5 linked regions of the Homo sapiens genome follow. The protein of the gene in region 5 interacts with the protein of the main gene of each other region in a biochemical or structural test. Each region holds a gene or a part of one and is shown on either strand. Other genes may lie near its edges.

What was found.
Region 1: the proteins of SDC2 (region 5) and FN1 form a complex in vitro, tested with the Homo sapiens proteins (one study listed by BioGRID).
Region 2: the proteins of SDC2 (region 5) and FGFR4 form a complex in vitro, tested with the Homo sapiens proteins (one large-scale study listed by IntAct).
Region 3: the proteins of SDC2 (region 5) and CSF2 form a complex in vitro, tested with the Homo sapiens proteins (one study listed by BioGRID).
Region 4: of the proteins of SDC2 (region 5) and PRKCB, one has a biochemical effect on the other in vitro, tested with the Homo sapiens proteins (one study listed by BioGRID).

Annotation. Positions count from the first base shown.
Region 1 is NC_000002.12:215,426,067-215,429,582, reverse strand, and holds part of FN1 (fibronectin isoform 1 precursor), read left to right. Parts: intron 1-1,244; coding exon 1,245-1,403; intron 1,404-3,516. UniProt on the Homo sapiens protein: Fibronectins bind cell surfaces and various compounds including collagen, fibrin, heparin, DNA, and actin. Fibronectins are involved in cell adhesion, cell motility, opsonization, wound healing, and maintenance of cell shape.
Region 2 is NC_000005.10:177,093,400-177,096,915, forward strand, and holds part of FGFR4 (fibroblast growth factor receptor 4 isoform 1 precursor), read left to right. Parts: coding exon of another isoform or gene 1-6; coding exon 7-152; intron 153-254; coding exon 255-376; intron 377-1,930; coding exon 1,931-2,041; intron 2,042-2,133; coding exon 2,134-2,324; intron 2,325-2,657; coding exon 2,658-2,780; intron 2,781-2,887; coding exon 2,888-2,958; intron 2,959-3,204; coding exon 3,205-3,342; intron 3,343-3,516. UniProt on the Homo sapiens protein: Tyrosine-protein kinase that acts as a cell-surface receptor for fibroblast growth factors and plays a role in the regulation of cell proliferation, differentiation and migration, and in regulation of lipid metabolism, bile acid biosynthesis, glucose uptake, vitamin D metabolism and phosphate homeostasis.
Region 3 is NC_000005.10:132,072,323-132,076,594, forward strand, and holds CSF2 (granulocyte-macrophage colony-stimulating factor precursor), read left to right. Parts: upstream 1-1,466; 5' UTR 1,467-1,501; coding exon 1,502-1,660; intron 1,661-1,758; coding exon 1,759-1,800; intron 1,801-2,487; coding exon 2,488-2,613; intron 2,614-3,422; coding exon 3,423-3,530; 3' UTR 3,531-3,848; downstream 3,849-4,272. UniProt on the Homo sapiens protein: Cytokine that stimulates the growth and differentiation of hematopoietic precursor cells from various lineages, including granulocytes, macrophages, eosinophils and erythrocytes.
Region 4 is NC_000016.10:24,094,474-24,097,989, forward strand, and holds part of PRKCB (protein kinase C beta type), read left to right. Parts: intron 1-3,516. UniProt on the Homo sapiens protein: Calcium-activated, phospholipid- and diacylglycerol (DAG)-dependent serine/threonine-protein kinase involved in various cellular processes such as regulation of the B-cell receptor (BCR) signalosome, oxidative stress-induced apoptosis, androgen receptor-dependent transcription regulation, insulin signaling and endothelial cells proliferation.
Region 5 is NC_000008.11:96,500,305-96,503,820, reverse strand, and holds part of SDC2 (syndecan-2 precursor), read right to left. Parts: intron 1-3,516. UniProt on the Homo sapiens protein: Cell surface proteoglycan which regulates dendritic arbor morphogenesis.

The sequences.
Region 1 (3,516 bases), on a different chromosome or scaffold from region 5:
GGAAAAAGCTCTAATCAGTAATTATACCTTCATGCAAACTTCTATTCTTGTGGTAGATGGATGTGGGTGTGTATTTGTTTGAACCTACATCAACTATTAATTTTTTTTCTCTAACCCAGGAGTTGCAACAATATCCAATTCACAAAGACATCAGATCCTCTATACTCACATCGTGGCACAGAGCAAATTTGGATTATAATTTAAATAATCTATTTACCAGATAAATGCACGCATAGACTAATGGTCATTTAGTTACAAATTATCATTTTATGTTGATCCCACTCTTCCAGTGGAGGGCTAACACTGAATAATTTGGGGCTATTTTGCTAGTGATTTTTAAATACTGTAGATGTTTGGGTATAGGGGAAGGGAAAATAATATTTTAGTCAAAGAAATTGTGCATCCTCTACATTTTTTACATAACAAATGAAGAAAGAGATACTACCACCTTCTTATAGCTTCTTTGTAGCCATTGGTGAAGACCCTTTGATACCTGCTTGCCTCCCCATTGTTATAAGCTTTTTTTTGTTTGCTTGTTTTTTTTGTTTTGTTTTGTTTTGTTTTGTTTTTGAGACAGTCTCACCCTGTCGCCCAGGCTGGAGTGCAATGGTGTGATCTCAGCTCATTGCAACCTCCACCTCCCGGGTTCAAGCGATTCTCTTGCCTCAGCTTCCCGAGTAGCTTGGATTACAGGCGCCCGCCACCACAGCCGGCTAATTTTTTTTGGTATTTTTAGTAGAGACGGGGGTTTCACCATGTTGCCCAGGCTGGTCTTGAACTCCTGACTGCAGGTGATCCACCCTCCTAAAGTACTAGGATTACAGGCGTGAGCCACCGCGCTTAGCCTGTTTTTAGTTTTCTAAAGCAAGGTCCCTATTGAAAGGCAGGCCATAAACAGTGATGACTAAGAAAAATCCTGGAAGAGCCTGAGAAGGAAAAAGATGAAATATAATGCCAGAGAATGAAGTTAGTCAAAGGAACAGTGTGAAAACAATAAATAAATAGATAAATGAAAATGTTATTTGACAGAGAGATGAAACTAGACTAAACCATTCAGCTGCCTTTCCACTGTAACAAATGTAATTTCATCTTTCAGAAGTGTAATACCTTGCAGCACCAGAGCTGAATATGAACATATTACCAAAAATAGATTACCAGGCATAGATAGCATTCCTTTTTTAAGTTTGAATTGACCACTTGCGACTCTCGACCTGATGTATGTATGTGCTTCCTTTGTGACACAGATAGATGCAACGATCAGGACACAAGGACATCCTATAGAATTGGAGACACCTGGAGCAAGAAGGATAATCGAGGAAACCTGCTCCAGTGCATCTGCACAGGCAACGGCCGAGGAGAGTGGAAGTGTGAGAGGCACACCTCTGTGCAGACCACATCGAGCGGTGAGGCACAGGACGAGCAGGGGCGGGAAATGGGGAAGCAGGTCAAGAAATATTTCCGCAAATCCATCTTTCCTTTGACATGCCATTTGAGGATAATTTGCAGTGTTTCAGCTAATAACCTAAGATAATTTACACATTATTGGTTGTTAAAACTTTTTTTAATGTCAAGTTTTAAATTTTTCAGAAAAAAAGAAAAATGACATACAAATAAACCTTAGGGGGAAAAAAGCCAGATTTATCTCCAAAAGATAAAACTGAGTTTTAAAGAATGCTAGCATCATAAAACTTACCATGGATAGATCACGCACACACGCACACACACACGTATTTTGAATATCCAAAGTTCATTTGAAAGGAAATGAGAGTTATAATTAATTATATGACTACCTGGTTCTTCTGCTAGGAAAGGACAAAAAAAGTGCATTTGGATTTTTTGTTTGTTTGTTTTTGAATGAAATATACTTCCCTGTCCCGACATTGAACTCTTTTTGTAGTGGAAACCATCCTTTATATGTGGTTTCTATGCTCTGGCAAACTTTGTTACATTCTATAAAGTAACACACAATTATTTCCTTCATGTATTGGCATTCGAAATTTTAGAAATTCAGAGAGGACTTAGAGATGGCCATGAAAGACATGATATCTAAGCATTCTTTTTAAAAAACAAGTTTTAATCATTTTTGGCATGAGAAAAAGATTTTTACGTCATAAATGTTTCATAAAAATCTGAAGAGAGAAATATGGCCAACAAGGACGTGCACTCCTCTCATTATTTTTAATATGTTTTGATTAACTTTTTACTATATGATGTGCCAACATCATTACGTAGTGTCTCAGCCATCCTTCAATTAAAAATATTAATTGTTCTAATTTTTCTTCTTTTGATGAGTTTTTGTCTTGCTTTGAGCACTTATGAAGGTGAACAAGATTAGATTTGATAATATCTTTGAGTTATTTTATTATCATTAATAAAATTGCTACTGGCCAAAAAAAATTATAAACATCGGCCACGCGCGGTGGCTCACGCCTGTAATCCCAGCACTTTGGGAGGCCGAGGCAGGCGGATCACGAGGTCAGGAGATCAAGACCATCCTGGCTAACACGGTGAAACCCCATCTCTACTAAAAATACAAAAAATTAACCAGGCGTTGTGGCGGGCGCCTGTAGTCCCAGCTACTCGGGAGGCTGAGGCAGGAGAATGGCATGAACCCGGGAGGTGGAGTTTGCAGTGACCCGAGATCGCACCACTGCACTCCAGCCTGGGTGATACAGCGAGACCCCATCTCAAAAAAATAAAATAAAATAAAAAATAAAAAAAATTATAAATGTCAGTCTACCAAAATAGATTAAAAGTGTAGGTGGGAATTAAATGGGGATAAACACTCAATAAATGTTAGCTATATATGAATATTGCCAATACTGAAAAGATTCCATTGTTCAAAAAAGTTTGAGAAGCAATGGGTTAAACAAAATGGAACCTGCTCTGCAGAATCTGTGTGTTCCTTTACATCATACTCTCCATGGTAGAGTGTAGGGGATGGGCGCCATGTCTCCCTAGTACGTTTGACCTTGGGATTCTTTGTCTGTGAACATCTTTGGGTTCTAGTGTTCAGCAGCACTTAGGGAGGCACTGAATTCAGTGTACCTTTGGTCTAGCCTCAGCCCTGATTCTGTTCTGCGGTGGGCCCTGGCCTTCAAGAGAACAGATATCTAAAAGTTGAAAGAAAAGATCGGCCGGGCGCGGTGGCTCACGCCTGTAATCCCAGCACTTTGGGAGGCCAAGGCGGGTGGATCACAAGGTCAGGAGATCGAGACCATCCTGGCTAACACGGTGAAACCCCGTCTCTACTAAAAATACAAAAAATTAGCCGGGCGTGGTGGCGGGTGCCTGTAGTCCCAGCTACTCGGGAGGCTGAGGCAGGAGAATGGCGTGAACCCGGGAGGCAGAGCTTGCAGTGAGCCGAGATTGCGCCACTGCACTCCAGCCTGGGTGACAGAGTGAGACTCCGTCTCAAAAAAAAAAAAAAAAAAAAAAAGAAAAAAGAAAAGATCAACACATCCTGTTGTGTTATTCTGAAAGGAAAGCTGTCTTAAGAGGATCAATTGGTTTTAG
Region 2 (3,516 bases), on a different chromosome or scaffold from region 5:
TTGCAGTTCTCCCTGGAGTCAGGCTCTTCCGGCAAGTCAAGCTCATCCCTGGTACGAGGCGTGCGTCTCTCCTCCAGCGGCCCCGCCTTGCTCGCCGGCCTCGTGAGTCTAGATCTACCTCTCGACCCACTATGGGAGTTCCCCCGGGACAGGTGCGCTGAGCTGTGTGGGGGCAGGGACGCGGGCGCCGGGTTGCAGCCCGCCCTCCGCAGGAGTGACTCGGAGGTCTGAGGCTGGACTTTCTCCATCTCCAGGCTGGTGCTTGGGAAGCCCCTAGGCGAGGGCTGCTTTGGCCAGGTAGTACGTGCAGAGGCCTTTGGCATGGACCCTGCCCGGCCTGACCAAGCCAGCACTGTGGCCGTCAAGATGCTCAAAGGTGAGTGTGGCCCGGTGTGGTGGCTCACACCTGTAACGCCAGCACTTTAGGAGGCTGAGGGTGGGAGGATCGCTTGAATCCAGGAATTCGAGGCCAGCCTGGGCAACATGGCAAGACTTCATCTCTACAAAAAAAAAATAAGAAAATTAGTTGGGTGTGGTGGTGTGTGCCTTTAGTCTCAGTTACTAGGGAGGCTGAGGCAGGAGGATCCCTTGAATCCAGGAGTTGGAGGTTGCAGGGAGCCATGATCACGCCACTGTATTCCAGCCTGGGCAACACAGTGAGACCCTATCTGAAAAAATAAATAAATAAATAAAAATAAAAGGTGAACGTGGCAGCCTGGAGGAGGTGCTATGGCATTGGGACTAATAGAAGGGGCTCACGGTGCCACCAGGTGAGCCCTGGAGCTGGGAGAGGCTGTGGGATCCCACCCTTAAACCTGCAATTCACCTCTGCTCCTGACCCTGGCAAGTGACTTCTGAGCCTCAGTTTTCCCTTGTGTCATATGGGGTAGATAACAGTCCCTACTCCCAGCCCAAGGATTGTGGAAAGTGCCTGGCTCATAGTCAGGGCTCAATAAATCTTCACCACTGGGGTGATGATGATGAGAAGAATTTGGTGTGACAGGCTTGATATCCTGTGTCAGCATTAGTCTGTGTCAGCTTTGACTTCACATCTCCTTGTCAGCCTCACAGGCCCTCTACCTCCTTCCTTATGGTTCCCCCCAGACACACCCTCAGCCTCCCTTGGACCCTCCCTAGGTCTGCCCCCCACGTCCACTGCTGTAGGAGGACAGCCCTTCTGCTTGCACCCAGGCCCAGCCCCGGGGTGCTCTTGCTGGGCACTCCTGCACCCCACCCATCAGGGCCTCTCCTTGCAGTTCCCCAGCCCCCTCTGCAAGAATGGCCTCCACTGCTCTTCTGCTCCTCCCCTCCTCTCTACACAGCTGGGGCCACCTGGTGCTCCCTGGGAGGCAGGGATTGAGAAATGCACATTGTGTCATTGGCCCAGGGCCACAGGTCAGCCCCAGGGGCTCAGCCAGAGAAGCCAAAGCAGCCTTCTTCCCAAGCTCCCCGGCTGCACCCGGCCTGCCGCCAGCTCCCTGAATTCCCAGGCCAGTTGGAAGCCAGGCCCTGGTCAAACAGACCCCAGGGCGCCAGCCTGCTTTCCGCACCCAGAAGCTCTGACCCCATGCGGGGACTACCGCTGACCCCTCCAGCGGCAGCTTCCTTCCTTCCTTCCTGCTCCGAGCTCTTCCCCTCTCTCCTGTGTCCTGGGCCTGCCCGCTGGAAGGCCTGCCTCTTAGATCCTTGATACAGTTGCATCCTTGCAACTGCTGTGACAGGCAGGGTGTGACCCACTGCTCTGTTTCCCACAAGACGAACCTGAGGTTCAGAGACGCTAGGAGACTTTTTCAAGGCCACACAGCCTAGCAAGGATTCAGCCCTAGACCTACGTAGCCCTGGTCCAGTGCTGCTTGTCCTGCACCTGCCTCTGCATGCTCCCTCGTGCAGTTGGAGGGCAGCCTCTTCACCCCGTCTGCTGCCCTTACAGACAACGCCTCTGACAAGGACCTGGCCGACCTGGTCTCGGAGATGGAGGTGATGAAGCTGATCGGCCGACACAAGAACATCATCAACCTGCTTGGTGTCTGCACCCAGGAAGGTGGGGCCGAGGCGGGGCTGGCTGCACGGGCCGTTAGGGTGCAGAGCCAAAGCTTTGGCAGCCTCTCCACGCTCCCTCCACTCCCTCTGCAGGGCCCCTGTACGTGATCGTGGAGTGCGCCGCCAAGGGAAACCTGCGGGAGTTCCTGCGGGCCCGGCGCCCCCCAGGCCCCGACCTCAGCCCCGACGGTCCTCGGAGCAGTGAGGGGCCGCTCTCCTTCCCAGTCCTGGTCTCCTGCGCCTACCAGGTGGCCCGAGGCATGCAGTATCTGGAGTCCCGGAAGGTACAGGCGCTAGGGCTCTGAGCCCCTCTCAGTCTCTCCAGCTCCACTCTCAGGCCTGTGGCATTCAATGTCCCGACTTCTCCCTCTCTGCTCTTTTTCATGACCCCACCTCAGTGTCCCCAGGCATTCACGCTTTCCTGCATTCCCCACTCGTTCCTCACCCTTCCCCAGAGGGGAGAGGGGACGCAGGAGAAGGCACTCCCCGTTTCTAAACCTTGACCTCCTCCTCTGTAAAGTGGGTGGAGGGCCCCTGCCCCCGGGCCTGCTGGGGGGTGGTGTGTGCTCAACTCCAGGCCAGGTGTCCTGAGGCACCCAAGCCCCCGCTCCCTGCAGTGTATCCACCGGGACCTGGCTGCCCGCAATGTGCTGGTGACTGAGGACAATGTGATGAAGATTGCTGACTTTGGGCTGGCCCGCGGCGTCCACCACATTGACTACTATAAGAAAACCAGCAACGTGAGGGAGATGGGGCAGAACTGGATGGGGGTGGAGGGGCACTGGGCCCGGGGTGGCAGGCACGAGGACCTGTGGGACTCTGCACTGAGGCCCTCTCTCCCCTCCAGGGCCGCCTGCCTGTGAAGTGGATGGCGCCCGAGGCCTTGTTTGACCGGGTGTACACACACCAGAGTGACGTGTGAGTCCTGCCGGCGGTCACTGTCCTACCCCACAAAAAGGGCAAGGCACTGCCCAAAGTCACGTGGCCCCAGGAGTCATGCGCTCGAGGGCTCCTTCAGATTTGGTCTGGGACCCGAGTGGGCCCAGACTCCAGGAGGAGCCCATTCCCCAACAGCTGTGGTGGGTCATGTCTGTGGGGTCCCCCGTCCTAGCCCCGGTCGTCGGGAGGGCGCTGAGCCACACTGAGCCCTGGCCCTACCTCCAGGTGGTCTTTTGGGATCCTGCTATGGGAGATCTTCACCCTCGGGGGCTCCCCGTATCCTGGCATCCCGGTGGAGGAGCTGTTCTCGCTGCTGCGGGAGGGACATCGGATGGACCGACCCCCACACTGCCCCCCAGAGCTGTGAGGCCTCACCCTGCCCTCGACCCCACTTTCCAGTCCTCCTCCTCCTCTGCCCTGACCATGGCCTCAGGGTGTGTCCCGGCCAGAAGGACAACACTAACAACAACTCCTCGTCCTCCTCCTCCTCTTCCTCTTCCTCCTCCTCCTCTTCCTCCTCCTCCTCTTCCTCCTCCT
Region 3 (4,272 bases), on a different chromosome or scaffold from region 5:
TCTATGCAAGGTCAGAAAAACTCCCACAGTACAGGGAAACTGGCCAGGGCTGCAGACTCAGACCACAGTGCTAAAGCCATGAACTCCACCTGCTCTCTGAAGGCTCGCCAACCTGAGTCCAGCAGAATGTTCTCGCTTGTGTCCAACCCCACTGGTTTAGGCTGAATCAGCCTCTAGGGCCCAGAGGCACTGCACCTGGAGTAGGGAGCTTCTCCAGTATCAGAGTCACCTTCAGAGGCCTGGAGCCTTTCATAAAGCAGGTAAGAGGACTCAATAGATGCATCTGCATGGAAAACATCCTCCCCTCTACCAGGCACCTGTATGTACAACCAATCACAGCAGCACACATACACCCAGAAATGGGCACGTGTGGGCCCACACCCCTTTAGCTATGAAACCCAGGCATGGGGCAGCTTGAGCCAGATACCTTGTGCAAACACAAACTCGTGCTGTCTTCTCTGAACTCCATTGTGAAAATCAAACACTTGTCAGCCCCTCAAGAGCCTTTAGATTTCCTACTTCCACACTTCCACAGAAAGGCCTCTGGAGTTGGGGGATGCTGGGGTTATGTAGGAAATTAAGCCTGGAGGGCCTTGCTGGGGAAGCCATTGTCCCTGTACCTGAGATGGATGCAGCCACAGCCCTGGAGCCAGCCTGAAGCTCCTGGTGTCTTCTGGGGGCTACATATAGGAGTGTAGTCCGAACCTCAGAGGGGCAAACCTGCTCTGCAGAGGGAATCAAGGTTCACATAACCAGAGAGGGGAGTCACTCAGGAAGGTGGCTCCAGAGCCAAGAGTCAGACTCTGGGTCCCGACTTGACCCAGCCACACCCCCTCTGAAGCTTGCTGAGAGTGGCTGCAGTCTCGCTGCTGGATGTGCACATGGTGGTCATTCCCTCTGCTCACAGGGGCAGGGGTCCCCCCTTACTGGACTGAGGTTGCCCCCTGCTCCAGGTCCTGGGTGGGAGCCCATGTGAACTGTCAGTGGGGCAGGTCTGTGAGAGCTCCCCTCACACTCAAGTCTCTCACAGTGGCCAGAGAAGAGGAAGGCTGGAGTCAGAATGAGGCACCAGGGCGGGCATAGCCTGCCCAAAGGCCCCTGGGATTACAGGCAGGATGGGGAGCCCTATCTAAGTGTCTCCCACGCCCCACCCCAGCCATTCCAGGCCAGGAAGTCCAAACTGTGCCCCTCAGAGGGAGGGGGCAGCCTCAGGCCCATTCAGACTGCCCAGGGAGGGCTGGAGAGCCCTCAGGAAGGCGGGTGGGTGGGCTGTCGGTTCTTGGAAAGGTTCATTAATGAAAACCCCCAAGCCTGACCACCTAGGGAAAAGGCTCACCGTTCCCATGTGTGGCTGATAAGGGCCAGGAGATTCCACAGTTCAGGTAGTTCCCCCGCCTCCCTGGCATTTTGTGGTCACCATTAATCATTTCCTCTGTGTATTTAAGAGCTCTTTTGCCAGTGAGCCCAGTACACAGAGAGAAAGGCTAAAGTTCTCTGGAGGATGTGGCTGCAGAGCCTGCTGCTCTTGGGCACTGTGGCCTGCAGCATCTCTGCACCCGCCCGCTCGCCCAGCCCCAGCACGCAGCCCTGGGAGCATGTGAATGCCATCCAGGAGGCCCGGCGTCTCCTGAACCTGAGTAGAGACACTGCTGCTGAGATGGTAAGTGAGAGAATGTGGGCCTGTGCCTAGGCCACCCAGCTGGCCCCTGACTGGCCACGCCTGTCAGCTTGATAACATGACATTTTCCTTTTCTACAGAATGAAACAGTAGAAGTCATCTCAGAAATGTTTGACCTCCAGGTAAGATGCTTCTCTCTGACATAGCTTTCCAGAAGCCCCTGCCCTGGGGTGGAGGTGGGGACTCCATTTTAGATGGCACCACACAGGGTTGTCCACTTTCTCTCCAGTCAGCTGGCTGCAGGAGGAGGGGGTAGCAACTGGGTGCTCAAGAGGCTGCTGGCCGTGCCCCTATGGCAGTCACATGAGCTCCTTTATCAGCTGAGCGGCCATGGGCAGACCTAGCATTCAATGGCCAGGAGTCACCAGGGGACAGGTGGTAAAGTGGGGGTCACTTCATGAGACAGGAGCTGTGGGTTTGGGGCGCTCACTGTGCCCCGAGACCAAGTCCTGTTGAGACAGTGCTGACTACAGAGAGGCACAGAGGGGTTTCAGGAACAACCCTTGCCCACCCAGCAGGTCCAGGTGAGGCCCCACCCCCCTCTCCCTGAATGATGGGGTGAGAGTCACCTCCTTCCCTAAGGCTGGGCTCCTCTCCAGGTGCCGCTGAGGGTGGCCTGGGCGGGGCAGTGAGAAGGGCAGGTTCGTGCCTGCCATGGACAGGGCAGGGTCTATGACTGGACCCAGCCTGTGCCCCTCCCAAGCCCTACTCCTGGGGGCTGGGGGCAGCAGCAAAAAGGAGTGGTGGAGAGTTCTTGTACCACTGTGGGCACTTGGCCACTGCTCACCGACGAACGACATTTTCCACAGGAGCCGACCTGCCTACAGACCCGCCTGGAGCTGTACAAGCAGGGCCTGCGGGGCAGCCTCACCAAGCTCAAGGGCCCCTTGACCATGATGGCCAGCCACTACAAGCAGCACTGCCCTCCAACCCCGGTGAGTGCCTACGGCAGGGCCTCCAGCAGGAATGTCTTAATCTAGGGGGTGGGGTCGACATGGGGAGAGATCTATGGCTGTGGCTGTTCAGGACCCCAGGGGGTTTCTGTGCCAACAGTTATGTAATGATTAGCCCTCCAGAGAGGAGGCAGACAGCCCATTTCATCCCAAGGAGTCAGAGCCACAGAGCGCTGAAGCCCACAGTGCTCCCCAGCAGGAGCTGCTCCTATCCTGGTCATTATTGTCATTATGGTTAATGAGGTCAGAGGTGAGGGCAAACCCAAGGAAACTTGGGGCCTGCCCAAGGCCCAGAGGAAGTGCCCAGGCCCAAGTGCCACCTTCTGGCAGGACTTTCCTCTGGCCCCACATGGGGTGCTTGAATTGCAGAGGATCAAGGAAGGGAGGCTACTTGGAATGGACAAGGACCTCAGGCACTCCTTCCTGCGGGAAGGGAGCAAAGTTTGTGGCCTTGACTCCACTCCTTCTGGGTGCCCAGAGACGACCTCAGCCCAGCTGCCCTGCTCTGCCCTGGGACCAAAAAGGCAGGCGTTTGACTGCCCAGAAGGCCAACCTCAGGCTGGCACTTAAGTCAGGCCCTTGACTCTGGCTGCCACTGGCAGAGCTATGCACTCCTTGGGGAACACGTGGGTGGCAGCAGCGTCACCTGACCCAGGTCAGTGGGTGTGTCCTGGAGTGGGCCTCCTGGCCTCTGAGTTCTAAGAGGCAGTAGAGAAACATGCTGGTGCTTCCTTCCCCCACGTTACCCACTTGCCTGGACTCAAGTGTTTTTTATTTTTCTTTTTTTAAAGGAAACTTCCTGTGCAACCCAGATTATCACCTTTGAAAGTTTCAAAGAGAACCTGAAGGACTTTCTGCTTGTCATCCCCTTTGACTGCTGGGAGCCAGTCCAGGAGTGAGACCGGCCAGATGAGGCTGGCCAAGCCGGGGAGCTGCTCTCTCATGAAACAAGAGCTAGAAACTCAGGATGGTCATCTTGGAGGGACCAAGGGGTGGGCCACAGCCATGGTGGGAGTGGCCTGGACCTGCCCTGGGCCACACTGACCCTGATACAGGCATGGCAGAAGAATGGGAATATTTTATACTGACAGAAATCAGTAATATTTATATATTTATATTTTTAAAATATTTATTTATTTATTTATTTAAGTTCATATTCCATATTTATTCAAGATGTTTTACCGTAATAATTATTATTAAAAATATGCTTCTACTTGTCCAGTGTTCTAGTTTGTTTTTAACCATGAGCAAATGCCAGTGGTGCCTGCCTTCCCATGAGGCAGGGGAGGGAGGAAACGGGGAGGTGGAGAGGGGGCGGGGGCCTCCCAGGCGTTGGGCACTATCCAAGGGCCAACACTGTCAGAGCAGAGGGGAGGTGAGAGCCGGGCATAGGTGCGGAATTCTGCACACCTGGACGGGCTTCCCGGGATGCTCCAGGGCTCCCACCCCAGAGAATGGCTCTCAAGTTCACCTGGAAGTCCAAGTGACCAGCCCAGGGAACTCTTATCCCAGAGAAGGGCACCACCCTTCCTGGGGAGGCCTGGGGGTTGGCTGGTCACTGGCTGAACAGGCCCACTCTGGCATCAGGCAAAACACCTGCCCTGTAGAGGCCTTGGCCCCTGTGCCCCACGCCCTGCCCCT
Region 4 (3,516 bases), on a different chromosome or scaffold from region 5:
AAAAGAAAGAGGCCAGGCCTCGTGTCTGACACCTGTCATCCCAGCACTCTGGGAGGCCGAGGCAGGTAGATCACTTGAGCTCAGGAGTTTAAGACCAGTCTGGGCAACATGGTGAAACCCCATCTCTATCAAAAACATGAAAAATTAGCTGGGCATGGTGGTGTGTGCCTGTAGTTCCAGCTACTCAGGAGGCTGAGATGGGAGGATCACTTGAACCCTGGAGGCAGAGGTTGCAGTGAGCAAGGTGGTCAGAGATTGAGCCACTGCACTCCAGCCTGGGTGACAGAGTGATAAAAAAGAAAGAGAGAGAGAGAGAAGGAATGAAGGAAGGGAGGGAGGAAGGAAGGAAGGAAGGAAGGAAGGAAGGAAGGAAGGAAGGAAAGGAAGAAAAAGGGAAAGGGAAAGGAAGAAGAAAGAAAGAAGAAAGAAAGACGGAAAGCAGGAAGGAAGGAAGGGAGGAAGGGAAGGAGGGACAGAAGGAGGGAGGGAGGGAATTAGTTCTAGTATTTTAAAAATCTGGGGCTAGAAGGCAACAATTGAGAACAGTTGAATAGTTAATGCCCCCTTTAGACAGGACATGGATTTTCTATTTGTCACCGTCCTCACCACTCCCTATTTTATTACATCTGGGCCAATTTACTAAACTACATGATGAGACTGTAACTGCCCAGTGGCTTCTTTGTGCCTGCTGCCCAGACAGAGCCGATTTATCAAGATGGGAGAATTGCAATAGGGAAAGAGTTTTACACACATAGAGCCAGCTAAATGGGAGAACAGAGTTTTTTTATGACTCAAATCAGCCTCCCTGAAAATTTGGAAGCTAGGGCTTTTCAAAGATAGTTTGGCAAGGAGTAGGGTGGCTAGGGAATGGGTGCTGCTGACTGGTTGGGGATGCAGTAATAGGGGTGTGAAAAATGGTCCTCGTGCACTGAGTCCACTTCTGGGTGGGGCCACAGGACTAGTTGGCAGGTCCAGGTGGGGCAGTCTGGTTGTCAGGAAGGCAAAAGCCTGAAAAGACATCTCAAAAGGCCAATCTCAAGTTCTACAGTAGTGATGTTATCTGTAGGAGTAACTTAGGAAGTTGGAAGTGTTGTGAGCTCTGGGATAAAGGCTGATAATAATCCATGTCTACATCTTAGCAGAATTCAGGCTCCTTTCATTCTCCTAACTTGGCAATATTTCATTAGTTTTACAAAGGCAGTTTAGTTTTGGGAAAGGGCTGTCATAATTTAAAATATACAACAAATTTCTTTCAAAGTTAGGTTGGCGGTCTGGTCGGGGTGGAGCCATTGGTTACGAGAAATGCAAAAAAACCTGAAGAGACATCTCAAAAGGCCAGTCTACAATAGTGATCTTATCTGCGGGGGTCATTGGGAAAGTTGCAAATCTTGTGACCTCTGGAATAATGGCTGGTAATCCTTTATGTCTACACCTTAGCAGAATTCAGGCTCCTCTCATCCTCCTAACCTCATGGTCCCTCATTAGCTTTATGAAGGTAGTTTAGTTTTGGGCAAGGGCTATTATCATTTAAAATGTACACTAGGCCGGGCGCAGTGGCTCACCCCTGTATTCCCAGCACTTTGGGAGGCCGAGGTGGGTGGATCACGAGATCGGGAGATCGAGACCATCCTGGCCAACATGGTGAAACCCTGTCTGTACTAAAAATACAAAAATTAGTTGGGTGTGCTGGCATGTGAGGATCACTTGAACCAGGGAGGCGGAGGTTGCAGTGAGCCGAGATCATGCCACTGCACTCCAGCCTGGGTGACAGAGCAAGACTCCATCTCAAAATAAAATGAAATAAAATAAAATAAACACTAAATTTGTCACAAAGTTAACTTGGCCCGAGCCCAGGAAAGCGTAAGGGCAGTTTGGAGGTTAAAGGCAAGCTGGGGGTTGGTTAGATCAAATCTCTTTCACTGACGTCATCATTTTCTCCCTGTTACAATTTCTGCAAAGACAGTTCCATGACTGGCTCCATGGACACTAGAGTGGCTTGTACACTTCACCTGAAAGATATGAGCAACCCACTGTCAGATGGTGTCTGAGAAGCTACCGCTTCCTTGGGAGTCCTTAGCAAGTCTGGCCACAGATCATAGATGTACTGGGGTGTTGTTTTCATAGTCAGCTGCTGTGTCTCCTTTGTCCTGAAGATTTTATTTTGCTCCCTTCCTATGGCAAAAAAAAAAAAAAATATATATATATATATATATATATATATATATATATATATCCTCCAATGTTACCAACAGAGAGGCTGGGTAAGCCCCCTTGGCAACTGTTTCACAGTTAACTGAGTCAAGGAGTCAGAAGAAATAGCTTAACCTGGCACTATAACTTTGGGAGAAGTGGCAATTGGGCTGCTATTACTTCTTTAAGATAAATTGTCTCATATCTGAATTGTCTCATTCAGGACCTTTTCAGCTTCAAGTGAAAGAAAATAAAAATCAAACTGGTTTAGCGAGAAAGAGATGTGTCCTTTGGACCACACACACATCTTTCCTTTCCATTGTTCACCTTATGACTTCCTTGTCTTGGCTCCATGTTTCATCTTAGGCCTTTTTTTTTTTTTTTTTTTTTTGAGACGGAGTCTTGCTCTGTCACCCAGGCTGGAGTGCAGTGGTGTGATCTCGGCTCACTGCAACCTCTGCCTCCTGGGTTCAAGCAATTCTCCTGCCTCAGCCTCCCGAGTAGCTGGGACTACAGGTGCCCGCCACCACGCCCAGCTAATTTTTTGTAATTTTAGTAGAGATGGGGTTTCACCATGTTAGCCAGGATGATCTCGATCTCCTGACCTTGTGATCTGCCTGCCTTGGCCTCCCAAAGTGCTGGGATTGCAGGTGTGAGCCTCCGTGCCCAGCCTATCTTAGGCTTTTCTTGAAACATATATTGAGTGTCCACTAGGTGCTGGTCACTAGAAACACATGGAGGTATAAGACAGACATGACTTCATGGAGCTTAGCTTATGGCAGAGGGTGGGTTGGGGAGATAAACATTGAACAAGGAATTACGCAAATGACAAATCAATGACAACATGATGGAAGATGTGAAGAAGACAGGAGCTGAGAGTTTTGAACCCAAAAGTATCTGAGACAGATTTCAATCAGTTTAGAAAGTTTATTTTGCCAAGGTTAAGGATGTGCCAGTGACACAGACTCAGGAGATCCTGATGACATGGGCCCAAGGTGGATGGGGTACAACTTGCTTTTATACATTTTAGGGAGACGTAAGACATCAATCAATACATGTGAGATTTACATTGGCTCAATCTGGAAAGGCAGGACAACTAAAAGTGGGACGGGGAGGTGCTTCCGGGTCATAGGTAGATTTTACAATTTTCTGATTGGCAATTGGTTGAATGAGCTGTTATCAATAGAAAGGAATGTCTGGGTTACATAAGGAGTTGTGGAGACCAAAGTTTTATCATGAAGATGAAGCCTCCAGGTAGCAGGCTTCAGAGAGACTAGATGGTAATTGTTTCTTATCAGACTTAAGGTCTGTGTTGATGTTAATGCT
Region 5 (3,516 bases):
TGAGCTTTATAACATATCTTTCTCTGAAGGATCAGCAGAACTTACTTAAACAACAATCTAGCTCTGGTGCCATTTTTTGATTGAAATTTTTGTTGAGATAACTATAGACTCACACACAGTGTAAGAAATAATACAAAGATCTCTTGTGCCCCTTCCTAGTTTCCGCCAATGGTAACATTTATAAAACTACAGTAAACATCACAACAATGATATTGATATTGATACAATCTACCAATCTTATTCTGATTTTCCTAGTTTTACCTGTATTCATGCTGTGTATGTTTGTGTATGTGTATCTACACAGTTCTATGACATGTATGGATTTGTATATATACATTATCTTTATACACACACACACCTTTTAAAATATAACCAAGGTCTCACTATACATAGGTTTATATCTAACTTTTTGTGTACTATAGTTTCTAAGTTATAAATACCCTTCAAATAAATCTTTAATGGCCACATGATATTCAGTGTCTAAATTAGAATCTTATTTAACAATTACTCTATTATTGTACACTTGGGTTGTTTCCATTTTTTTAACTATTATAAGTAAGAGACTTCAACAAAGACATTAAATACTATTTACCTGGTAATGATTTCCTTTGGACAGATTTGTGGAGGTAAAATTACTGGGAAAGATGAGCTTTTCACATCTTAACACGGATTTGTCCTGTCCCTGTAAGGAACCTTTCATCAGCCAGAAATAATAAATGGCATATTTTCTCACATCATCCACTTTTAGAGAAAAGCTGACTACAAACATATTCCCAATATCTCAGCGTAGAACTAGTCTACCCCAAGACAAGAAGAAAGCCCCTGTTATGAAAAAGTAGGCCTTAGCATGCATATGCTGAGCCACCCTCTGGGCTAGAGCTTATCAGATGAGCCCAACTAATGTGTGTGCCAAGCCCTTATTCTTCAGAGAAGCAGAAAGCCAGGAATTATAACTAGCATGTGACACAACGCATGGACATTCCCTTATGCTAAAAAGTCCCTACTTATTGTGTCTCACATAATCCTAAAAACTTATTTTAGGATATTCAGTTTTACAGATGAGAAAACTGAGCCCAGAAGGTTAAAAAACTTGCCCAAGGTTACATAATAAGTGTATCCAAACCCAGGCAACACTACCATAGTCTGCTCATTTAGATTCTTGCTTGTGGTCTGCACAGTACTCAGACCAGGCTCAAGTGCTCTAGAGAGGGACCAAACGGAAGGCACCAGTTAAAAGCCCCACTCTGGAAATGGAGATCCAGGCCAGAAACCATATGAGGAGACTAAAACACTTTATGAGATTTATAGTTTAAAAAGACCCCCAGTATATCAAGTCATGTAGTCTTCTATCTAGAATGAAAGTTATTTTTACCACGCAGCTGTTCTTTATGTTACACTGGCTTGTATCAGAAAATATATAAAAAAATACTAGTGATATGGTTTGGCTGTGTGTTCACCCAAATCTCACCTTGAACTGTAATAATCCCCATATTTCAAGGGCGGGGCCAGGTGGAGATAACTGAAACATGGGGGCGGTTTCCCCTATACTTTTCTTGTGGTAGTAAGTCTCACAAGATCTGGTGGTTTCATAAATGGGAGTTCCCCTGTACAAGCTCTCTTGCCTGCCACCATGTAGGACGTGCCTTTGCTTCTCCTTTGCCTTCCACCATGATTGTGAGGTCTCCCCAGCCATGTGGAACTGTGAGTCCATCAAACATCTTTCCTTTATAAATTACCTAGTCTTGGGTATGTCTTTATTAGCAGAGTGAGAACAGACTAATACAAATAGACATTAGATCACGAATACGCAGGACAATGTATACCACTCCTAGTAAACAATGAACACTCAGTTCAAGGTAACAGGTTACCATGAGCTATTAGAAATTACTTGCCTTTCTGTAAGGTGAATAAATTCCATGTTTCAATAATAAAATTAGAAGTATTTGACAGGGGATTAATAATTACTTATTAAGTTAATCTTCACATTTCTCCTACCACACCCTAAAGTGCAGAAAAAGTAAATATTAAGGAGAGAGAGTTTTTCTCGTTCAACTCCATCATTTTAGAGATGAGAAAACTGAGGTCTCACAGGGATTAAGACAGTTAATTACATGTGTATAAAACCTTGCTTTTGCCTTGACTTAAAATGTTGTATATTTAGTCTACTGTATTTATATTTAATAACAAATTACACATAAATACATACTTAACTCAGCTGGTTGCAGTGGCTCACGTCTGCAATCCCAGCACTTTGGGAGGCTGAGGCAGGCGGATCAGTTGAGGTCAAGAGTTCAAGACCAGCCTGGCCAACATGGTGAAATCCCGTCTCTACTAAAAATACAAAAAAAGAATAGCCAGGCGTGGTGGTGTGCACTGTAATCCCAGCTACTCGGGAGGTTGAGGCAGGAGATTCACTTGAACGGGGGGAGGAGGTTGCAGTGAGCCTCATTTATGCCACTGCACTCCAGCCTGGGCGACGGAGTGAGACTCTGTCTCAAAAAAAAAAAAAAAAAAAAAAAAAAAAAGAAATACGTATTTAACTTTTCCCTTAAAAAAAATTTTCCTTTAATAATTGCGTATCTTGTCCCGTGTGTCATTCTTATACCATGAGACTAAATTCTATTAATTGCACACACTCCTTAAACATCACGGTTACTTGTATTTAATATACCTGTGTAATCATAAAAAAAAACACCAAAATGCTTTGTAGAGAGCATACTTACTGAGTCTTTGTGACATTTTTCACAAAATAGACTGAATAGTAGAGAAAAAAACTGTGAAAACATGTCTTTAATAACATTTTTCCATTTTTCCAAGACTATGCATTGGCTATCACGCCACCAGCTGCATACTCATTGGCTTCACTCTGCTGATGTGAAATGCAAATGGAAAATCTCCAAAGATTTCAAGGCTTCTCTCTTCTCCCACTCCTACCAATTCTTTGAGATACTTGAGAAAAACAGACATTCACAATTCTATTTCAACAGTGTCCTCTCCCATTCAGAGGCATTCACCCCTCCATCCTTGTTGCTAAAGCTAATGCTGCCTAGAAACAGACTTATCAAAATGCAGTTGAGATTTTTAATAGTAAGACCTAAAGCCCAATGGCTAAAAGAAGAAATTTAATGCATTTCCACTCTTTTTTTTTTTTTTTTTTTTGAGATGGAGTCTCACTCTGTCGCCCAGGCTGCAGTGCCATGGCATGATCTCGGCTCATTGCAACCTCCGTCTCCTGTGTTCAAGCAATTCTCCTGCCTCAGCCTCCCAAGTAGCTGGGATTATAGGTGCCCATCACCACGCCCGGCTAATTTTTATATTTTTAGTAGAGACGGGGTTTCACCATGTTGGCCAGGCTGGTCTCGAATTCCTGACCTCAGGTGATTGGCCCACCTCGGCCTCCCAAAGTGCTGGGATTACAGGCATGAGATATCGCGCCAGGCCACATTTCCACACTTAAAAAATAAAAATAATCCCTTTTCTGCCCCCAGATCCCCAAAATATACTCACTACCCCTGC